Homo sapiens: one gene and its partners. The protein of the gene in region 3 interacts with the protein of the main gene of each other region in a pairwise test. Each region holds a gene or a part of one and is shown on either strand. Other genes may lie near its edges. The genes, in order: UBXN11, AKAP8L and WDR25.

Region 1 (7,107 bases), on a different chromosome or scaffold from region 3:
TGCTAGGCCCTGCCCATCATGGCGATGCCCACGCCCAGGGTCCTGCCATCCTCAGGCTCAGACTCAAGTGAAGAAGACGGGGCGGCAAATGGCGACAATGGCATGTGTAAGTATCACTGTGGGGGCTGTGGAGCCCAGAAGAGGGCCAGACCCTACCATGCTCAGTGGAGAGGTGGCAGCCCCTCACTGCACAAGTGCCCAGGGCACCCCGGCAGCTCACGCGGTGCCGCCCTCCATGTGCCTGCCCTTGACCCTCAGGCAAAGACGGCTGCAACAGGAAGTGGAACCACTATTACCACACACCTGCAAGCCAGGCCCCGCTCTGGGGACTTTACTGCAGTCACTCTGCTCTTCAGAGGAGCCAGTGCAGGAAAGGAGGCCCTGCAGGTCTGGTCCCCGCCAGAACACTCAACCAGCCTGTGGACTGGCAGGATCTGAACTCAGGCCTGCCGGGTCCCACCTGCAGCTCTCTCTGGCCCCTGCCATTGAGCTACGCACCACCCTGTCCCCACCTCATCATGTGCAGATGACTGTTCCAATGTGCTCTGATCATCCAAGCCTGGGCACACGGGCATCACAGCCAATCACATGCAGCTACACACACCCTTGCCCATGTGCCAAGCACTGGGACATGCATGACAACAGCTAGGTGACAGTGGCTGTCACAGTTTATTACCACATCCATTCAGTGGCCCTAGGAGCCCGTCAGCACGACTGAGGAGGAAATGAACTCAGAGGGGGTCAGCGATCTGCTGATCTGGGGTCTGACCCGACCTGAACCCTGCCTCAGCCAGAGCTTTTAGCCCCTTCCCTCAAGCAGAGCCCTCCCCACAGAGCAGCACAGCCCACACAGGGCAGTCAGAGTTTGCTGGCGGAGGTTGGATTTGCCCTGAGCTTCAGAGGGGAGGGAAGCGGGCAAGGCGCTCTGTGGGGACAGAGCAGGAGCAAAGGCTGGAGGCAGAAGTGCAGGTGGGGAGGGGTCAAGCCAGGTGGCTCTGGGATTGAAGGGCAAGCCCAGGGGCAAGTCACGCAGGCTGCGGAGTCAGGGGGCCTCCAACCCAGACTCAGGAGTGTGGGGCTTGAGAGGAAGGAGGGAGGCGTGTGGGGTGCTGGCAGGGAGAGGTGGAGCCATGGAGGGAGGCAGGGACTGACTTGGGTAGGGGAAGTGGGGATTTCAGAGGGGGATGAGAGGGTGAGGATTCTCAGGGGAACAGGGAAGTAGTGAGGAGTGAGGAGCTCAGAGATGCAGAGGGTGGGGGGGAAGGGAGAACTTCAGAGCTGACCAGAGCTCTCAGCCCCGAGGCCCAACACCTGGCCCCAGTGGCGTGTGACCAGAGCAGGACTGTCCCTTTCATGTCTCCACAGACCCTGAAGCACCTGGCACAGCATGCTCTGTGACGCTGGCAGAGAGAGGGGGAGAGTGAGCGATCCAGCCTGAGGCCAAGCCCCTTCATGGCCCCACCGGCCCTCCTCCCTAGGAGTCCCAGGCTCCAGGAAGTTTGATCACCCCACTGGCTCGGCACAGACGGCCCTGGCTCACCCTCCACAGGCCTCCACCCCAGCGCCTGTGGGAGCCTCTCCAACAGAGGGAGAGCAGAGCAATCAGCCGAGTGTCAGGCAGGCCAGCGGGGGCCAGGCTGTGAGCCTGAGGCCCCTGGGCGGAGCAGGGTGGCACCTGGGGAGAGAGGAACGGGGACGCCGGAGAGATGTCCCAGGAACAGAAGCTGCTAGCGACGAAAAACGTCATTCATCTGGCAGAAAGAGCCGAATCAAGGCCCCCCGCCCATGCTGAAAAAATCAAAGAACAAAAGAAGGAAGAGAACGCACGGAGGGACCACAGATATGGCCAGGGCCTCCAAGATGGAGGGCAGGGTTTTTCACAAGTTACTTTGACTTGAGGCACTCAGAGCACAAACAACCAAACAGGGCAGAGTAGGAATCCACAGAGCCAGGTCCAGAAACCAGCCACCTGGCAAGGAGCAAGGAGGTCCCCCCTGGCCAGGAGGAAGGCTGCCCTGCAACAAGATGGCAGGCCTACCTGAAGCCTGAGCCCAGCCCGCCACAGCAGGGCCCAGGGTGCGGCACTTGTGGGCCTCTGGCCTAGATCCAGGATAGACATTCTCAGAGCACCTGCAGCCACCCAATAGGGCCTCACCTCTCACTCATGCCAGGGGTCCCTTGAGAACTCTCCCCACGACACCCACCCTGGGTTCAGTTAGAGCTTTGGAGTTGGCATGCCTGGGCCTACAGTGCCCTGGGCAGCAGGGACACGCTCCCCTTCCTAGCATCATAGGGACTGCACAGCCCCCAGCTTTGCTGTGTCCCAAGTGTACTCAGCATCTTTCCCGCAGCTGTGCTCCCTCGGGTTATCCCTGACTCCTCTGGTCCTCTCCCTCATGTAAAGACACCAAGGCCACGGATTCTACTTAAATCTCTCTGCCCATCCCTTCTCACCATCCCCACCCTCAAGCTGGGCATCATCTCATCTTCTGCCTCAGTGACCAACTGCCTTACAGTGGGCTGTCAGCCTTAAGTCTTGCCCCTCTTCCCTCAATAATGAGTCCACAGACTCCTTAAGTGCCTCCCTTTACCCATCTGTGAAATGGAGTAACTCCTGGCCCCTGTCAAGGCTATGAAGATGCTGGCAGGGCACAGTGGCTCACAACTGTAATCCCAGCACTTTGGGAGGCTGAGGCAGCAGGATCACTGGCATCCAGGAGTTCAAGACCAGCCTTGGCAACGTAGCGAGACCTCGTCTCTACAAAAAATAAAGAAAATCAGCTGGGTGTGGTGGCACGTGCCTGCAGTCCCAGCTACTCAGACAGCTGAGGTGGGAGGATCACTTCAGCCCAGGAGGTTGAGGCTGCAGTGAGCCATGACTGTGCCACTGCACTCAGCCCAGGCAAAAGTGAGACCCTGCCTCAAAAAATAAAAAGAAAAATAAAGAAAAGAAAAAAGAAAATGCTTTGAAAGCTGCAAATGGCTGGGCGCGGTGGCTCACACCTGTAATCCCAGCACTTTGGGATGCCGAGGCGGGAAGATCACGAGGTTAGGAGTTTGAGACCAGCCTGACCAACATGGCGAAACGCTGTCTCTACTAAAAATACAAAAATCAGCCGGGCATGGTGGTGGGCGCCTGTAATCCCAGCTACTCAGGAGGCTGAGGCAGGAGAATCGCTTGAACCCAGGAGGCAGAGGTTGCAGTGAGCCGAGATTGTGCCATTGCACTCTAGCCTGGGCAACAAGAGCAAGACTCCATCTCAAAAAAAAAAAGAAAGCTGCAAATGGCACAAAAATGGGAAGTGATGTTTTGAGAACAAGCAGTGAGGGCGTTAGACCCTGAGATCTGGGGGGATCCAGCCAGAGCCCAGGCCTAAACAGGAGGCAGGATTCTCATGTTTGGAATCTGGGTTTTTACCTAGCAGGAAACCAAGAAGGTGTCGTCATCTTCCAAATGGGCCCCTTGGAAGCTGTGCTCCTATTCCCGTGGGACCCCTGCCCTCAGACTTTGGAAACAACAATGGCTGCAAGGCCAGAGCTAGGCGCTCTGCGTTTAACTCATTTGCTCCTTGTAACTCCCAGGGAAGAACACTCCTGTTTTGTTGATGAAGTGAATAGAGGTCATCTGCCCAAGTCACACTTGGGATAGGAGGTAGAGTCGAGTTGAGGGCCCAGGTGTGCCTGACTCTAGAGCCTGGAGAAGCATCTTTTGGGTGACAATCTCCATTCTTTGAAGAGAATGGGCCTGGTTTTCAGAAATGGCCAGTTTTATGGACCCAAATCTGTGGGTCTATAGGAGGGGACTGTGGGAGGAATCCCTCTAGATATTAGAAGTTAAAAATAAGACATGGTAGGCCAGGCGTGGTGGCTCACACCTGTAATCCCAGCACTTTGGGAGGCCAAGGTGGGCAGATCACGAGGTCAGGAGTTCAAGACCAGCCTGGCCAACATGGTAAAACCCCGTCTTTACTAAAAATACAAAAATTAGCTGGGTGTGTTGGCACACACTTGTAATCCTAGCTACTCAGGAGGCTGAGGCAGGAGAATTGCTTGAACCTGGGAGGCAGAGGTTGCAATGAGCCAAATCGTGCCACTGCACTCCAGCCTGGGTGACAGAGCAAGACTCCGTCTCAAAAAAAAAAAAAAAAAAAAAAAAAAAAGACATGGTAGGGGCCCACAGAACCAGGTGGATTCCAAGGGCCATAAGCAAACCTGGAGAGGGAGGCCAAACCTGGGAATTTGGCAGCAGCTTCTAGAACAGAAGGATTGCCTTTTTTTAAAACGGCAACATCTTCCAGATTGGTGGCGTTTTGTAGACTATGTGACCTGAGGCAAATAAGGCCTTGCTACCTCTTGTATCTCTGGGTCTCTGACAGATGAGCAAGAGAGAGCAGAGGTAGGACCGTGGAGAAGTGGGCCAGCAGGTTAAGTGGTCAGTGATGGAGGCCAAGGCTGCTCCCACATTGTCTCAGGGGCAAGTTGTGGGCTCTCAGGGCGTCTTGGGTCAGGGACCCGGGCACGAATGAGATAGGCCTCTGGGGAGCTGCCGGCCAACAGCAAACTGTTGGAGAATTCCTTTTGAAGAGGGCCTGGGGCAGACGCCCTGCTCTACCTGGCTTCCAGAACTTCTTGGCTGTCATCCAGTCCCTCTCGCCATGCTCTGAGACTGTCTTGCTCTCTGAGTCCTCCTGGTCCATGGGCTCGCCCACCCACTGCAGGCCATAGTCACTGAGGAACCGCTGTGGGAAAGAAGGGGGAGATGCGGGGCACCGTCAGCTCAGCCCCTTCCCAGGGAAAGGCAGTGTCAGCCCAAAGCCCAGCCTCAGTCTGCAGGCAATGGGGCCCCCAGAGCTGACCAGACAAAGGGATGAGTAGGGGGATCTTGCCATTTCCTGGCTGTGACCTTGGAAAGCCACCTCAGTCCCTAGAGCCTCAGACGACTCCTCTAATAAAATGGAGTGACAGTTCCTGCCACATAAGCTTGTGAGGAGGGCTCAGTAAGATCACTCAGGTCAGCGCCCAGCCCATGCGAGGGCTCGGTAAGGTCAGCCTCCTTGGCTGCAGAAATCACGTGGCCTGGCCCAAGTGTGAGAAGGAGGCAGGGCTGAGGGATGTGAACCATGTGCCAGCCTCCCTAGGGCTTGGCCGCATGTCCCCTCTGCCACAGGAAACTTCTGGACTGTCTACATGTCCACACCCCGACTTCTTTTCTCAAGCCACTCTAACCTGGCTCCATCGCCATACCTCTCTGAAACTGCTCAAGGTGCTGCAACCACCAACCTACCCGCTGCCAAGCGCATGGGCACATTTCTGTCTATCTTTCACCATCTGCTAGTTTTCCTCCCATCTCCTGGGCTGTTCCTTTCCAATTTCCTTCACCGTTTCCCCTTCCTATCCAACACCAACTCATGGGGGCCCAGCTCCATCCACACGCTCTCCCAAATATATACGACAGAACCCAAGTTTGTATTTATGCAGATTTCACCCGAGCTCCAGACTCACATTTCCAACCGTCCACACTTGGATGTCTAATGGCTGTGGCTCTTGTCCCCCTGTCAAACCTCCCCCGTGCCAGGTTTTCCTGTCTCCAGAAATGGCACCCCCTCCACCTGAGAATCCTCTGTCGCCCATTCCTCCAGGATGACCCACAAGGCCTGTGGTGCCCCCTCCAATGCAGCCTGGAACCCATCCACTGGGCTCCATCTGCTGCCACCACCCTAGTTCAAGCCACCGTCATCTTTCTCCTGGACAATCCAGGGGCGGCGCCTGCTTCCCCCGTCCTCTCCTCACCCACACCACCCAACCCCACAAAGCAGGGTGGTCTTTTTGTCATGCCACCTCTCAAACAGAAGCCTTCCAATGGCTTCCCATTTTTTCGGGACAGGATCCAGCCAGAACCACGGGCGGCTCCAATGTGATAAGGCCCCCACGACCTCTTCTCTTTTCCCGTTCTTCTCCTTCCTCCACACAGCCACCGACCGCAAGCCAAGTTATGTGGCGGGAAGTGGCACCTTCCCTGTCTAAGGCCTGGATCCTCTCACCCCATTCCCCTCCTCACTCACCAGACATCATGCCCAATGTCACCCCCGCAGGTGGTCCCCCAACTTGCCTCTGTGGTGTCACCCATTTCATCAAGTCACAGCACTCTCTGTACTTGTGTACCTGTGTACTCGTTTGTTCCCCTCCCCACAGACTGGCAGCCTCATGCAGGCGGGGGACTATGTCTGTCTTGGTCATGCTCTGCCCCAGGCCTGCCCCAAGCAGATCCTCCAGATGAGGCTGTTAAATGAATGAAGTGATAACTGTGTGGCGGAGACGCATGCAAGGGCAGTCATGCCCCTGCCCCGAGGCTCTGGTGCAGCCCTCACCGCCTGTGGCCACTGCTCGGGGACAACCCCAGGTATGAACAGCTTGGAGTGGGAAGGGCTCTCAGCTGCAATTGGAGGTTTGCTGCCAAGGTTTTAAATTAGATTGGGACTTTGGAAACCAATTCTGCGTGGAGAGGGAGAGAGGCTGAATCCCAGGAAGAACTTCTGGCAGGGCCCATGCGTGCCTGGGACCCTTCTCTGTGCCTGGTGTCCCTCTAGTTCCCTTGCTGTTTGAATGGGTCTGTGAGCGGGGGAAAGAAAGGTGACTGGGGTCACTGAGTCCCCAGTGAGCAGAAGTCACAGCCAGAGGCAGCAAATTGCTTAACCAATTCAGTGCTAGGTCCTGGGTGCACAGTGACATACAGGAGGAAACTGCTCCCTCCGTCGTGGAGTTCAGAGTCCCACAAGGGAAGAGAGATGAGGCACTGAGAAAGCTCGGGATGGAAAACCTGCCTAGGAGGCCCGGGGGATATGACTGAGGACAGTGGAACTGACCTGGGGGAGGTGGGGAAACATTTCAGCAGAGGGAACAGCAACAGCACGGCCCAAGGCCCTGAGGTGGGAAGCAGCTCCATGAGGTCAAAGACCCAGAGGAAGGGCCTCATGGCTGGAGGGGAGAGTGGTTCAAGCTAAGATGAAGAGGCATGCAGGGGCCAGCCCGCAGGGGCCACAGCGAGGACTGTAGAATTCAGTTCAGTGGGAGCCATGAGGTCTGCTAAGCAGGGGAGAGGCATGTTCA
Region 2 (7,107 bases), on a different chromosome or scaffold from region 3:
GGCAGAGCTGCTCCACAGCCCTTTGGGAACATGTACACCATCTGTGGGAGCTGCAACGCCCAAGGCTGCTCCTCACAGGGCAAGGCTGAGCACCCCAGCACCCTGCAGGATGCAGGCAGGTCCAGCACAATGAATGCGCAGCCAGTGAGGCTGATGATACCCATGGGAAACACTGTTCTTGTCCCTCATGGCTGGGGAACCTTCAAACTCTGCAAAGTCCCTCATTACCAAAACAACTGAGACAAAAGGGGGAGTATTTCCCAGGGAAGACACTGAGAGCTTGCCCAGGGACAAGAAAAAGAGCTGTATTACATCAACCCTGGAGCCCAGAGCCAGACACCAAACTCTATATACCCTGTATTGCAACTGGGAAGGCAGGCCAGACCTCCTCCCAGGACACAGAGGGCACCGCAGAGAGCTCTTTTAACCGTGACTGCAGCCCGCAGCCCACACCCCTACAGGCCTGGACCCCACACACCTCACAGGCACAGGGGCTCCCCTTGCACACTCTTCCCTAAACCTGGGCCACCAAGAGGCACCGGCAGCTCTAAGAGCAGCAGTTGGTGCTGCCGCTGCTCTGCTTACCCCGATCCCAGGCTCCAGGCTGTGGTAAGAAGGTGCATAGCAGCAACGCAAGGCCAAGCCTCACATGCCAAGCCCTCAGCTCTGAGTGCTGCAGCTGTTGGGCCAGGAGTTACAGAGCCCATGGCATCAAATCCCCTTGTGCCTGTTCCACACCCTGCCACCACAGCCCTGGGGCCTCCCTTGGCCCTATCAGTGCTCAGCCAGGCAACTCCTTACTCTTGGCTCTCACTCATCTGTTAGCTGGTGCTCCACTCTATCCCATGTTAGAGATACACCCACGCTCCTCACCAAAGCCTCGCACTGGGCATAAGCACTCCTGGGCCAAGTCCAGTTCAGTTAATAACAAATGCCCACAGCATGATGCTTTGGAGTAGGGCAGATCTGGTAGGCGAGGCCCAGCCCCACCAAGTACTTGCTGCGTGCCTTCAGGGTATGACCTGCCTGCACTTCTGTATCCCCACCTGCAAAATGAGGACAGCAGCAGTTCCTCACAGGAGTGCTTCCATCAGGTACATGTTTGTAAGGCACAGGAGAGTAACCAGGAAATGCCCACACCTGCCCCGACCCTTACGTGGGGGTGGCCCAGCTCGCAGTGATCAGCCCCAAACGCTCGTCCCACCCTTCACACCAAACTCCATCTGTCCTGCCCTGACACCACGCAGGAGGCAAAGTCTCGAGAGAATTCCAAATGGCTGTCCTTGGAGGGAGGGGTGGCTGAACACTCTGTTTTTGAGGGCACAGTGAAGTCTGCCCAGTCTGGGCTTGTTCCTCTCACCGCAAGCTGGGAAAGGCTGACCACCAGGCAGTGCGGCAGGGGTTGAGGGTGGGTGAGAGGAGACACAAGTCAGAGACGGGAAGTGCAACGGACCCTGCTGGGAGCCACAGCAGCACCAAGCAGCGGGGAGGAAGCAGACACAGAGGGGCACTCAGAGAGGAAAACGCAGTGGGCAGCAGGCAGGAGCCGCCCCTGCAGAGTCTCAACCCCTAGGCAGGTGTCCACTCACCTTTCTCCACCTGAGCCGTACACGCCTCCTTGCATCATGTCTGTCTCCAAATGCGGCACCATATCTAAGCGCTGGTTAATTCTGGATAAAACGGAATCGGCACTGGCGCTACCCGAGGCACTAGTGTTTGCATTTGTGTCAGAGCTAGGCATTTCCCAAGAGTGTGAAGTGGCCATACCATACCCATAGTTGGTGGTGTTATCCTGGCCATAGCCATAGCCATAGCCATAGCCCTCGTAGCCTGCAGTGAGGGAGACAGAGACAGACAGATGGTGGGGGCAGGCAGAGGGGAGGCAGACAGAGACAGAGACAAACACAGATACAAGGGTATCTTCTGTCACAGAGAGAGAAGACCCTAGCCACTGAAGCTAGATGGGCCCTGGTCATTCTGATGAGGGCCTCCTGTTAAGGAGTAGGTAACCCCAGAAACATGCCCCCTCCCCACTCCCAACCTTGGCCAAGCAGGGCAGTGGCAGAGAAACACAGCCAGGACAACCCCAAGGGACAGGACAGCAATCACAGGAATGACACTTGCCTCTATTTGTCCCAGAGTTCCAAGTTCCATATCCTACAAAAAGTAAAAGGGCAGTTACATCTATACTTGCTTACAATACAAGGCCATAATTCAGGCGCAGACAATTATTCCCAGGACCTGACTGGTCAGAGCAGGCTGCACCTCCCCTAACCGAGAAGCCTTGAGCTCGCGAGCACTGCGCAAATGACCCAGGCCACTTGCTGCCCTGGTGCCTGGCTGCCTGTGGCTCTGAGCATCTGTTATTTAAGGATCCTTCTGTTCCCAACACTCTCAACTAAGGAACTTGGCTCCTATACTCCTCCCTTTAAGAGCCAGAATTAGAAGGTGACCTCCACACCCCAAGCTAAGTGCTAATCAGTTTATAGCAGAAAACCCAACCCCAGTCTCCCAAGAGTCTGCCTTAAAAGGGAGGGCCAACAAGCCCTTGAATTGTTGACTGTGCTGTGCTGGAACACATCAGTGAGAGAAGCCCAAGAAGCAACCCCTCGCTTGAGAAAAGCTGTGGAGAGAACAATCTGGATTATCAACTTAATATGCTCTGGATTCAATCACAACACATGATAAAACCTCATTCCTTCAGTAACATAAAGCCACTGAGAAGTGACAAAGTGTAAAGTCCCCTGGGAACTCTGAGTCAAACACACAGTTCCTCCCCAAAGGAGGGCACAGAGCAGGTGACCCCTTTCCCTGGGTCTCTGGTGAGACCCAACAGTTGTTTCCCATTCCATGTCATCTCTGCCCCGCAGAGGACATGCTCATCCCAGGGCAGGGGACCGAAGCTCAGTGAGACAGACAGCAGGGCAATAAGTGGCAGAAGCCAGACCACAGCAGGAAGAGTGTAAGTCAACTGAAAAGATGAGCCAGAGAGAACAGGCAGGCTGTCGTCCTGCACTTGGGTTCCTCCACGACCCAGTGCACAAAAAGAATGGGAAGAAATCAGAGAGAAGCTGAGGAACTGCTGATGACCACTATGTTTAACAAGAGAGCTCACAAAACAAAAACTCTTGGGCTGGAGAAACCAAAACAGGCTTCTCATCCATTTGTTTATGTATCCCCTGAGCACAGGGAACAGAGGCTTGCAGTCCCAGGCACTGCTCAGGCATGGAGATCTGCCTGTTGGTAAGAGAGATGCTAACAGCCAGAGAGCAGCATGGGTAAGTCAGGAGTGGTAGCTGAGGAAAGAATGGAGCCATTCTAAGAGGCAAGAGAGGCTGGCAGAGCCACATAAAGAAAAACACACAAGGCTGGGTGCAGTGGCTCACGCCTGTAATCCCAGCACTTCGGGAGGTCGAGGCGGGCGGATCACCTGAGGTCAGGAGTTTGAAACCAGCCTGGCCAACATGGTGAAACCCCTTCTCTACCAAAAATACAAAATTAGCCAGGCGTGGTGGTGCACACCTGTAGTCCCAGCTACTCAGGAGGCTGAGGCACAGTTGCTTGAACCCAGGCGGCAGAGTTTGCAGTGAGGTGAGATCGCGCCACTGCACTCCAGCCTGGGCGACACGGTGAAACTCCATTTCAAAAAAAAAAAAATAGAACAACACACAGGTAGCCCAGGCAGCTACTGTACACCTGGCCAAGTGACTGTTTGTACCAGGGACAGTGGGCACTAGCTATTCTAAAGAAAATAGGAGTTGGGCGTGGTGGCTCATGCCTGTAATCCCAGAACTTTGGGAGGCCAAGGTGGGTGGATTACGAGGTCAGGAGTTCGAGACCAGCCTGGCCAATATGGTGAAACCTCATCTCTACTAAAAATACAAAAATTAGCCAGGTGTGGTGGTGCGCGTCTATGGTCTCAGATGCTTGGGAGGCTGAGGCAGGAGAATCACTTGAACCTGGGAGGTGGAGGTTGCAGCGAGCCAAGATTGCACCACTGCACTACAGGCTAGGCGACCGAGCGAGACTCTGTCTCAAAAAAAAAAAGAAAGAAAAGAAAAAGAAAATAGGATATGGAGGCAAAAGCAGATCCATCAGGGCTCTGCTTGGGAGGCTACAATGTGGTCACTGCAAGCTTCACCTGCTGAGGATCTGCCACAACAGAGTGAGGAGGCACAACGAAAGGAAGCAGCATCAACTCCGTGAACACCACTTTACGTTTTAAGGACAAGCAGGGCCTCCCACGATGGGCAACTCTCAGGAGTCCCTCCAGGCAAACACTCACTACATGCCACTTGCTATGCCTGGAGCAACCCAGACTCCTTGATGGACATCCCAGCTGGGTCCCTTCAGGAGGAAGCCTTCATCTAGACTGGCGTTTAGGGACTCCCCAAGACCTGCCCTTTCTGAAAGAACACCCCAACTCATTTCCATCCCCAGAAGGGATGAGATCATGGTTGACAAAAGAAATTTTAAGGAGAGAGAGAGAGAGAGAGAGAGAGAGAGAGAGAGAGAGAGATCCTTAAAATTTATATATTTATTATTATTAAATATATACATATATATGTAAAAATAAGATATATGTACATATATATTTTTGAGATAGAGTCTTGCTCTGTCCTCCAGGCTGGAGTGTAATGGTGTGATCACAGCTCACTGCATCCTCGACTTCTTGGGTTCAAGTGACTCTTCTGCCTCAGCCTCCGGAGTGGCTGGGACAACAGGCATGTGCCACCATGCCCAGCTAATTTTTTCTATTTTTGTAGAGATAGGGTTTTACTATGTTGCCCAGGCTGGTCTCAAACTCCTGGGGGCTCAAGCCTCCCATCTCAGCCTCTCAGAGTGCTGAGATTATAGGCATGAGCCACTGCACCTGGCCCCAAGGACATAATTTTTAAAAGAAAAAAGGACATGGTCACAGTATGTGATATTTATGGACCAAAAATAGAAAACAATTTAACACTCAACTTTAACGTAATAGTTAATCAGATTACACCTACCTACTCGGTGACATATCATGTAAGCATATAAAAAGAATTTACTATGCCTTATGTGGCACAAGGAAATGCTTCTAACATAAAATAAAGCAGGACCAGCCAGGCGCAGTGGCTCACACCTGTAATCCTTTTGGGAAGTGGGGCAGGCAGATCGCTTGAGCCCAGGAGTTTGAGACCAGCCTGGGCAACATAGCAAAACCCCATCTCTAGAAAAAATACAAAAAATAGCTGGGCATGGTAGGGCATGCCTGTAGTCCCAATTATGCAGGAGGCTGAGGTGGGAGGGCTATCTGTGCCCAGGAGGTGGAGGTTGCAGTGAGCTGAAATTGTGCCACTGTGCTCCAGCCTGGGGGACAGAGTGAGATCATATCTTAAAAAAATAAAATAAAATAAGAGCAGTACCCACAATTCTATCCACCTATAAATTATTAAACTACACAAAATCAGTAAGCTGATAAAAATTAAACATTAATATGGTAGGATCTTGGTTGACTGTTTTTCAAAATGTTATTTAAATGTTATATTGTTCTTGCAATTCAAGCCAGAAGGAAAAATAAATCCATCTCTATTCTTTCACAATTGTGTATGTAAAAAAATCTCAAACAAATCTACAAAAGAGCTACTAGAATAAGTGAGCTTAGCAAGGTTTATTACAAGGTCAATCTGTAAGTCAAATTTCAAATATTACAAGGTAAACCTACAAATCAAATAGCAATCAAATTTCTATATATCAGCAATGAATGGAAAGTTTTTAAAAGTACCATTTCCTATAGCACTAAAAGCATGAAAAACTTGGCGTAAATCTAACAAAGTATGTGTAGGATCTGTGTTGAAAACTACAAAACACTACATCAGTGAAGTGACATACTGCACTCATGAATCAGAAGACTTGATATTGTTAAGATGTCAATTTTCTCAAACTAATCTATAGATTCTACAGATTTGATAGATCTATAGATCCAAGGCTCTCTCACTCAAAATCTCAGCATGAATTTTTTAAAAAACTTCATAAACTGATTCTAAAATTTATATGCAAAAGCAAAGAAACTAACAATTTTGGAAAAAAGAACAAACCTGGAGGACTCATATTTCAAGATTACTATTAACCAGTAATCAAGACTGCATTGCTGGGCGAGGCGCAGTGGCTAATGCCTGTAATTCCAACACTTTGGGAGGCCGAGGCAGGTGGATCATGTGAGGTCGGGAGTTTGAGACCAGCCTGGCCAACATGGTGAAACCAGTCTCTACTAAAAATACAAAAAGACCGTGCTGCTGAACGAAATTTAGATGTACAGACCAATGGAACAGAATGAGAGTCCAAGAGTCCAGAAATAGACCCACAGTATATGGTCAACTGATTTTCAGTAAAGGTACGAAGGCAATTCAATAGAGAAAATATAGGCCTGGCACAGTGGCTCACACCTGTAATCCTAGCACTTTGGGAGGCCAAGGCGGGTGGATCACCTGAGATGGGGAATTCAAGACCAGCCTGGCCAATGTGGTGAAACCGTCTCTACTAATAATACAAAAATTAGCCAGGCGTGGTGGCACATGCCTGTAATACCAGCTATTTGGGAGGCCAAGGCACAAGAATAGCTTGAATCTGGGAGGTGGAGGTTGTGGTGAGCTGAGATCGCGCCATTGCACTCCAGCCTGGGCAACAAGAGCGAAACTCCATCTCAAAAAAAAAAAAAAAAGAAAGAAAGAAAGAAAGAAAGAGGCCGGGCGCGGTGGCTCACGCCTGTAATCCCAACACTTTGGGAGGCCGAGGCGGGAGGATCACGAGGTCAGGAGCTCGAGAACATCCTGGCAAATACGGTGAAACCCCGTCTCTACTGAAAATACAAAAAGATTAGCCAGGCGTGGTGGCGGGCAACTGCTCGGGAGGCTGAAGCGGGAGAATGGCATGAACCCAGGAGGCGGAGCTTGCAGTGAGCTGAGATCGCGCCACTGCACTCCAGCCTGGGGGACAGAGTGAGACTCTGTCTCAAAAAAAAAAAAAAAGAAAGAAAAAATGGTTTTGTTTTTGTTTTTGTTTTTTAAACAAATGGTGCTGGAACAATTATATATTTATATGCCATAGAAGAATAAGAAACCTTAACCTATACTG
Region 3 (7,107 bases):
ACTCCTTTCTGGTTTCTCTCTCTCCTCCCCTGGTTCCCAGCCTGTGAAACTTGGAGGCCTGGGGCTGAGATGTGGGACTCCTCTCTGTCCTGTCTGCACTTGCTCCCTAGGAGAGCTCATCCAGCTCAAGGCTGCGGCACAATTTCCACAATGGCATCCACAGCTCAGCCTCTACCCTGGGCCTCTCTTTTGAACATCACACTGGTACGGGAATGAGTCTTTATACTGTCTGCTGTCTGTCATTCAAAACTGAGCTCCAGGTCCTCCTTCCCTCAAACTTACCCCTTCTGCAGGCTGACCCATCCCTGCAACTCCACCCCTTTCAGTGCTTGGGCCAGGAACTGCGAATGTGTCCTGGGCTTTTCCCTTGCCCTCATATCCTACCTCCAGTCCAGGGAAGTCCTGTTGGTTCTACCCTCCAAGGCAGGCCACTTCTCTACTGCCTCCCACTGTTCCAAGCCATTTCCTCTCTCCCTGGATTCTTGCAGAAGCCTCCTGATTGTCTTCCTTCATCTCTCTTGCCCTTCATTCTCCTCCCTGCATGGCAGCTGGAGTGGTCCTACTGCAGTGGAACCAGCCCTCATTCCCCTCCGTTCCACCTGCAGAACCCTGGGATGCCCCAACGGCTTGTGGTTTTCCGACTTCATCCCTTTCTTACCACCTCCCTGCCAACCCCCAGCCTTGCTCACTTCTCTAGCTGCAGTGGCCCTTCTTGCTGTTGCTTGACCATGCCAGGCATACTCCTGTCACTGCCTGGAAGCTTCTTCCCTCAATTTCTACATAGCTGGCTTTCTCACCCCTTCAGGACTTCCTCCAAAGTCACCTCCTCAGAGAGGTCCTCCCTGGCCACCATTTCAGCCCCTTCCCTTGACCTTATAGAGCCCTTTCCTGGTTACTTTTTAATACTTCAGTCTTCACCACTGCCTTAAGGACTGTGGATTTTTATTTGTTCAGTGTCTGTCTCCCTCACTAGAATATAAACTCTTTGAAGGCAGAGATTTTTGTCTTATTTGTTTCCTGTTACACAATGCCTGGCTAATAGCAGGTCCTCAGGAAATCTTTGTTGAATGAATGAATAAATGAATGAGTTTCAGAGGAAACATTTGGGCATGTTTTCTTCGGAGAGCATTTTCCATCTCTCCCTCTCCTCATCTCCCACACCCCATCGCATCAACCCAGTGCATTTCATCTCCCCCACCCCATCTCATCTCCCCTACCTCATCTCCCCTCCCCATCTCATCCTCCCCTACCCCATCTCATCTCCCCTACTCCATCTCATCTCATCTCATCTCATCTCATCTCATCTCATCTCATCTCATCTCATCTCATCTCATCTCATCTTCTTTTACCCCATCTGCTCTCCCCTATGCCATCTACTCTTTCCTACCCCATCTACTCTCCCCTACCCCATCTCATCTCCTTTACCTCATTTCATCTCCTCTACCCGATCTGCTCTCCTCTACCCCATCTCAAGTCCCCTACTCCATCTCCTCTCCCCTACCCCATCTCATCTCCCCTGCCTTATCTACTCTCCCCTACATGTTCCACCCTCTCTTTGGAAGAGCTGCTGCTTAGTGTTCATAGCTTTTCCCTCTAGCCCTGCCCCTTTCCCTCCCTTCCTAGGAGTGATGGCCCTCCTCATGCATGTTTTTATAGCCTGGCTACAAATTCACGTATAAATGAGATCTGCTTTTTTTTTTCTTTGTGTGTGTGTGTGTATTTTTAAAAACTGTGGCAGAATAATACACAGCATAAAATTGACCATCTTCACCGCTATTAAGCATACAGGTCAGTGGCATTAAGCACATTCACAGTGTTGTGCAGTCTGCACCCCATCTGTCTGCAGAACTCTTTATCTTGGAAAACTGAAACTCTGTCCCCATTAAACAACTCCCCATTCCCCCTCCCCCAGCCCTGGCCACCACCATTCTACTTTCTATCTATCTCTATGATTTTGACTACTCTGGGTACCTCATATAAGTGCAGTTATATAGTATTTGTCCTTATGTGTCTGGCTTATTTTACTTAGCATAATATCTTCAAGTTTCATCCATGTTGTAGCAAGTGCCAAGATTTCTTTCCATTCTAAGGCTGAATACTATTCCACTGTATGGATAGAACACATTTTTACAATTCATTCATCCATCCATAGACACTTGGATTACTCCCCTCTTTTGGCTATTATTAATAATGCTGCTATGAACATGGATGTACAGTATCTTTTTGAGACCCTGGTTTCAGCTTTTTGGGCATTTACCCAGAAGTGGAATGGCTGGATCATGTCATAATTCTACATTTAATTTTTTGAGGAACCATCATGCTGTTTTTCACAGTGGCTGCACCATTTGACATGCCCACCAGCAGTGGACAAGGGTTCCAGTTTTTCCACATCCTTGTCAATGCTTGTTATTTTCTGTTTTTTGATAGCAGCCATCCTAATGGGTACAAGGTGGTGTTTCATGTAAAAACTTAAATGGCATTGTACTTCGTATATGCAGCTTGACTTATGTACTTAATATTAACTTTTTTACCATTTAACCATGTAAGCCCTGTAGATCTCGTTTATTTTACTATTTAAATAAAATTAAACTCATATTCATACATATTTTTGGAAAACAGCAGTTCCCTGTGCCCCATCTCCCTCCCGTGAATTCTTATTCCACTTTGAAGTCTTCTGGCTGTGTCTTCTGGCTGTGTCGTGTTTCTAAATGTAAATACTGCTGTTTCTTGATTTTTTCAGTTTGAGACCCCAGCTATTGACCCTTAGTGAGGAAGAAAGGAACTGAGCTCTCTTCACATTTTTTGAAGGCTACTCTTGACCTTTTGTTTTCTTAAGTGTAGACATTTACATAATCCCAGGAAACAAGGTTTCAGAGCTCTGATCCTTTGCATTCTGAGAACATTCGGGACTTGGCAGGTTGAATTTTCTTGTCTTTAATGAGAAGGTTATCCCTGGGATCAGGTTGGTAGAAGTGCATGGGTGTACTTTGTTTGGGTTTTTCTCTTATTAAAGAAAATGAAGCTTGGTTTTCCTAATGGAACAGGTCTGGAATCCACATCCAGTTGTGTGCCAGCCATTATGCCATGTGCTGTGCAGCCATTACCTCCTCAGCCTTCACCACTGCCCTCGGGGTGGCGCTCTTCTTATTCCCACTTCAGGGAGGAGAGGACTGAGGCCCAGAGAGGCAAAGCCACTCAGCCAAGGCCCGAGGCCTGCCAGCAGCCGTATCAGGTGGGAGGCACTCCGTTCTGACTCCCACACGCTGGCTGCAAGTGCTCCTCTGCTTCTCGGGTTCAGCCTCTGAGCCACCTGGGTGGTAGGTGAGAGCACTGCCCTCATCCTGCAGTGACAAGAAGGTAGGGGACTAGCACTGCTGAGTACCTCTGTGTGTCAGGCCCTGGGCCTACCCTGACATATTCCAAACTCTCCGGCAGTTCCCCTGGGCTGCACGGTGTGTTTGGCGGCATTTGCTGGGAGAGCTGGTGGAAAGCTAAGCTCAGGGGCTCTCACGTGGTGTGGCCCTGGCTCTGGGAATGTGCAGTTTTATACTTGATATCTTAGATCATTTTTCAGAAGTCATTGAGTGTAACAGGGTTTTCTCTCATGAGCCTCATACCCTCATGAAAGGCCAGCATGGGAAGGAGGGAAAGCACCTTCTCTCCTCCAACAAAAGGACAGCTGCCCCTACGGCAGATATTTGTACTTTGACTGGTTGTAAATACGAGTGTAGCACATTCCTTTTTGGATCTCTGTCTTACAGCAGAACCCATGAAAATAGCCTGGACTTGGGCAGTGTCCATGGCAGGACAGATGCCAGGGATGCAGGCGAGCCTGGGATAAGATGCCAGGGATGCAGGCGAGCCTGGGATAAGATGCCAGGGATGCAGGCGAGCCTGGGATAAGATGCCAGGGACGCAGGTGAGCCTGGGATAGGGTTGTGAATGCTGAGGGTGCAGGACTCCCACCCGGCTGCAGGGATGAAACAGGTGTGAAGGGCTGGGTAGGTGACCGGCAGACACAGGAATGCGTTTTCTTTTTTCTTTTATTTTGAGACAGTCTCGCTGTGTCACCCAGGTTGGAGGGCAGTGGTGCAATCGTGATTCACTGCAACCTCTGCCTCCTGGGCTCAAACAATTCTCCTGCCTCAGCCTCCTGAGTAGTTGGGACTAGAGGCATGTGTCACTATGCCCAACTAATTTTATGTAGAGAAAAGGTTTCACCATGTTGCCTGGGCTGGTCTTGAACTCCTGAGCTCAAATAGTCTGCCCACCTTGGCCTCCCAAAGTGCTGGGACTACAGATGTGAGCTGCCATACCCGTCCAGAATGCAGTTTTCTTAACCCCAGAAAAAATTTGGGGAAATGATCCTCCCAACTTACCAATCCCAAGCCTTTACATTTCTGCAATGAAAAGTTTAACATCTAGATATAGATTTGATGGTAAAATAATGAGAATCTAATTCCACCGAGACCTTTTTCTTTCTACAGTGGGGTCGAGCTGAGCCCTGGAGATCAGGCCCTTGTTGTGACACCTGGTGCTGTCTGTGTTTGCCTGCAGGTATGGAACGCCGTGGACTCCGGGCACTGCCTGCAGACCTACTCCCTGCACACAGAGGCAGTGCGGGCCGCCCGGTGGGCTCCCTGTGGCCGGCGCATCCTCAGTGGTGGCTTTGACTTCGCGCTGCACCTAACAGACCTTGAAACAGGTGCGTTTCTTGTGTCACCTCCCTGAGGTGAGCTGGCAGCTCTCTCCCTGGGGAAGGTTCTCTGGTGGGCACGCAGCCACAAGCTGTATACGCTTGCGTGGCAGAGGGAGAGGGGCCTCAGGGTGGGCTCGTGCTCGGTGAGAGGGCTTCCAGACTGCTTGCCCATTGGAACTGCGACTCCCCACAGAGGATGGGCCTCTGCCAGCCAACACAGAGGACAGAGCCCCAAGGTTGTCTCAGCCTCAAGCCATGGGGCTGGATAAAGAGGTGGCTTTTTAATCTACTTCTGACATGCAATTTGTGCTGAAATAGATTTAACTTTATCATTGTGTCCTTTGGTTGGAATCAGGTTAGAATTCCTGTCAATTCATTATCGTTGAAAGTCTGTGAGAAATGATTCCAGCTCATAAGGAAAGTCTTCAAACGAGTTCTGCTTTAATGCCCACACTGAAAAGGCACTTGGGTAGGATGGATTCGTGCCGGGTAAATCCTGAGAGGGCTCTTGACAAGCAGGGCGAGAAGGAGAGAGAAGTCAGTGGAAGGAACTTTCCTTACTCAGCGCTCCTGTGCAACAGGCACTGTCAATACCCACCGCAGCCACAGCCCCCAGGTGGGCTCTCTCCGGGGTTTACAGTGAGGACTGCCAGGGAGTGACAGAGCTGGGATTCGCACCTCTGCCATCTGCCTCCCAGTCCGAGCTCCTTCCTCTCTTTCTCCTTTCCCCTCCCCTCCCCTTTTCTTTCCTTTCCTTTCCCTCTATGTTCTCTTTCTTTTCTTTCTTTCCTTTTTAAAAATGTTTTATCCCCCTCCATGAGCAGGATCCAGCTTCTTTCAGCACCACACTACCTCCTCCCCAGAGCTCCTCGGTCTCATTTCTGCTGGGCTCCACTGCCAGGAGCCCAGGGAGAGGCCAGACTTCACACCAGTCCCTGGGGCTCCCCTTGAACCCTCAGGCCAGCATCTTGCCTGCCTAGCCCCGCAGTGGTGGTGGCTCTGGGCCCTGCCTCTCCTAGGGTCTGGCAAGAAGGAGATGATAACTTGCTGGTCCAACCCCTGCCACTCATGCCCAGCAGCCCCCAGGAGACGCAGAGGGAAAATGGAGAAGGTGGTTTGTTTCCACCTTGAGTGTGGGCGGCCTTGCAGCTCCTTGCATGCTCAGTAGGGGAGGGGACAGTACTAATGGTCACAGGGCCCCTGCCACGTGCTATAGGCTTTGCACACAGCATGTCTAATCCTCACTGCAGCTGCCAGCAGTGATTATTTCCATTTTAAAGGAGAGGAAACTGAGGCTCAGAGGGGCAAAGCAGCTTGCTCAGTGCCTCCCAGTGGTGCATAGCCAGCAGGGATTTGAAGCCATGTCTGTACAACTACAGATTCTGTGCCCTTCCCACCGTGCCGTGTGTGGCAGTTTCTTCTCACAAAGCACTTCCCTGGTCTTACTGATTCTCTTAACCCCTTGCAGAGTGGCCAGACTCAGGGAGTTTGATGCCACTTGATGATGGTGATGACTGGGCTGATGATGGCAGCACTTACTACTGAGCACTGTGTGCTGGGCATTCTTCCACAGCCTCTATACAGCATCTTATTTAGGCCCCACTCACCCTTTGAGACAGGCGCCATCAGAATCAGCTGTACACACACTGGCCAGGGGCACAAACCAGCAAGTGACAGAGCCAGGATGCACGCAGGTCTGCTAGGCCCCAAAGCCTGCTGCCTGACTGTTACACTCTGTTGTCTGCATGTCCCATAAGATATGCTTGATAGGCGAGACAGAGCTGAACAAGACCCAGTGCCTACCCTGGAGAAGCTCCTGTCTGCTGGAGAAGACAGAAGTGCAGAGTCAATCCCAAATTGCAGTGATGGAGAAAGACACAGGAATTGCAAGAACATCTAGATTGGAAAATCAAGGAAGACTTCCTGGAGGAAGTGAAACCTGAGCTGAGCCACAGATTAGGTGGACAGAGAATTAGGATGGAGGAGGTATGGTTGATGAGGAGGAAAGTAGGTTCTTGCAGATGGAACAAGGACAGAGCTGACACAGGAACAGGGTTCCATGTAGTATGCATGGAAACCAAAGCAGGATGTAATATGGGGTGCAGGGGCTGGGGCAGATGAGTCTGAGGAGTGCAGGAGGGGAAACCCCAGCCTGTGGGTCAGGTGAGCACATGTGGGTAGCACACCGCTCACAGAGTGACAAGCTCACTCACACACACCGTCGGATTACTCAAATCAAATTCATTTGATGGCATTGATGGGTTCATAGTGGCCCTTAAGCATTATTCTCTCAATCAACAGAAGTTAAACAAATGCATGCAATTGTATGTGTGGGTGGGTGTGAGTGGGGTGTCTTGACAGGGGGTTCTGAAATTTTTAGACATTCAAAGAGGGTCCTCCTGTCTGAT

What was found.
Region 1: the proteins of WDR25 (region 3) and UBXN11 interact in binary tests that used the Homo sapiens proteins (3 or more experiments, as listed by UniProt).
Region 2: the proteins of WDR25 (region 3) and AKAP8L interact in binary tests that used the Homo sapiens proteins (3 or more experiments, as listed by UniProt).

What each region holds. Positions count from the first base shown.
Region 1 is NC_000001.11:26,289,593-26,296,699, forward strand, and holds part of UBXN11 (UBX domain-containing protein 11), read right to left. Parts: intron 4,740-7,107; coding exon 4,613-4,739; intron 1-4,612. UniProt on the Homo sapiens protein: May be involved in the reorganization of actin cytoskeleton mediated by RND1, RND2 and RND3. Promotes RHOA activation mediated by GNA12 and GNA13.
Region 2 is NC_000019.10:15,401,886-15,408,992, forward strand, and holds part of AKAP8L (A-kinase anchor protein 8-like), read right to left. Parts: intron 2,158-7,107; coding exon 2,125-2,157; intron 1,831-2,124; coding exon 1,590-1,830; intron 1-1,589. UniProt on the Homo sapiens protein: Could play a role in constitutive transport element (CTE)-mediated gene expression by association with DHX9. Increases CTE-dependent nuclear unspliced mRNA export.
Region 3 is NC_000014.9:100,463,464-100,470,570, forward strand, and holds part of WDR25 (WD repeat-containing protein 25), read left to right. Parts: intron 1-4,557; coding exon 4,558-4,705; intron 4,706-7,107.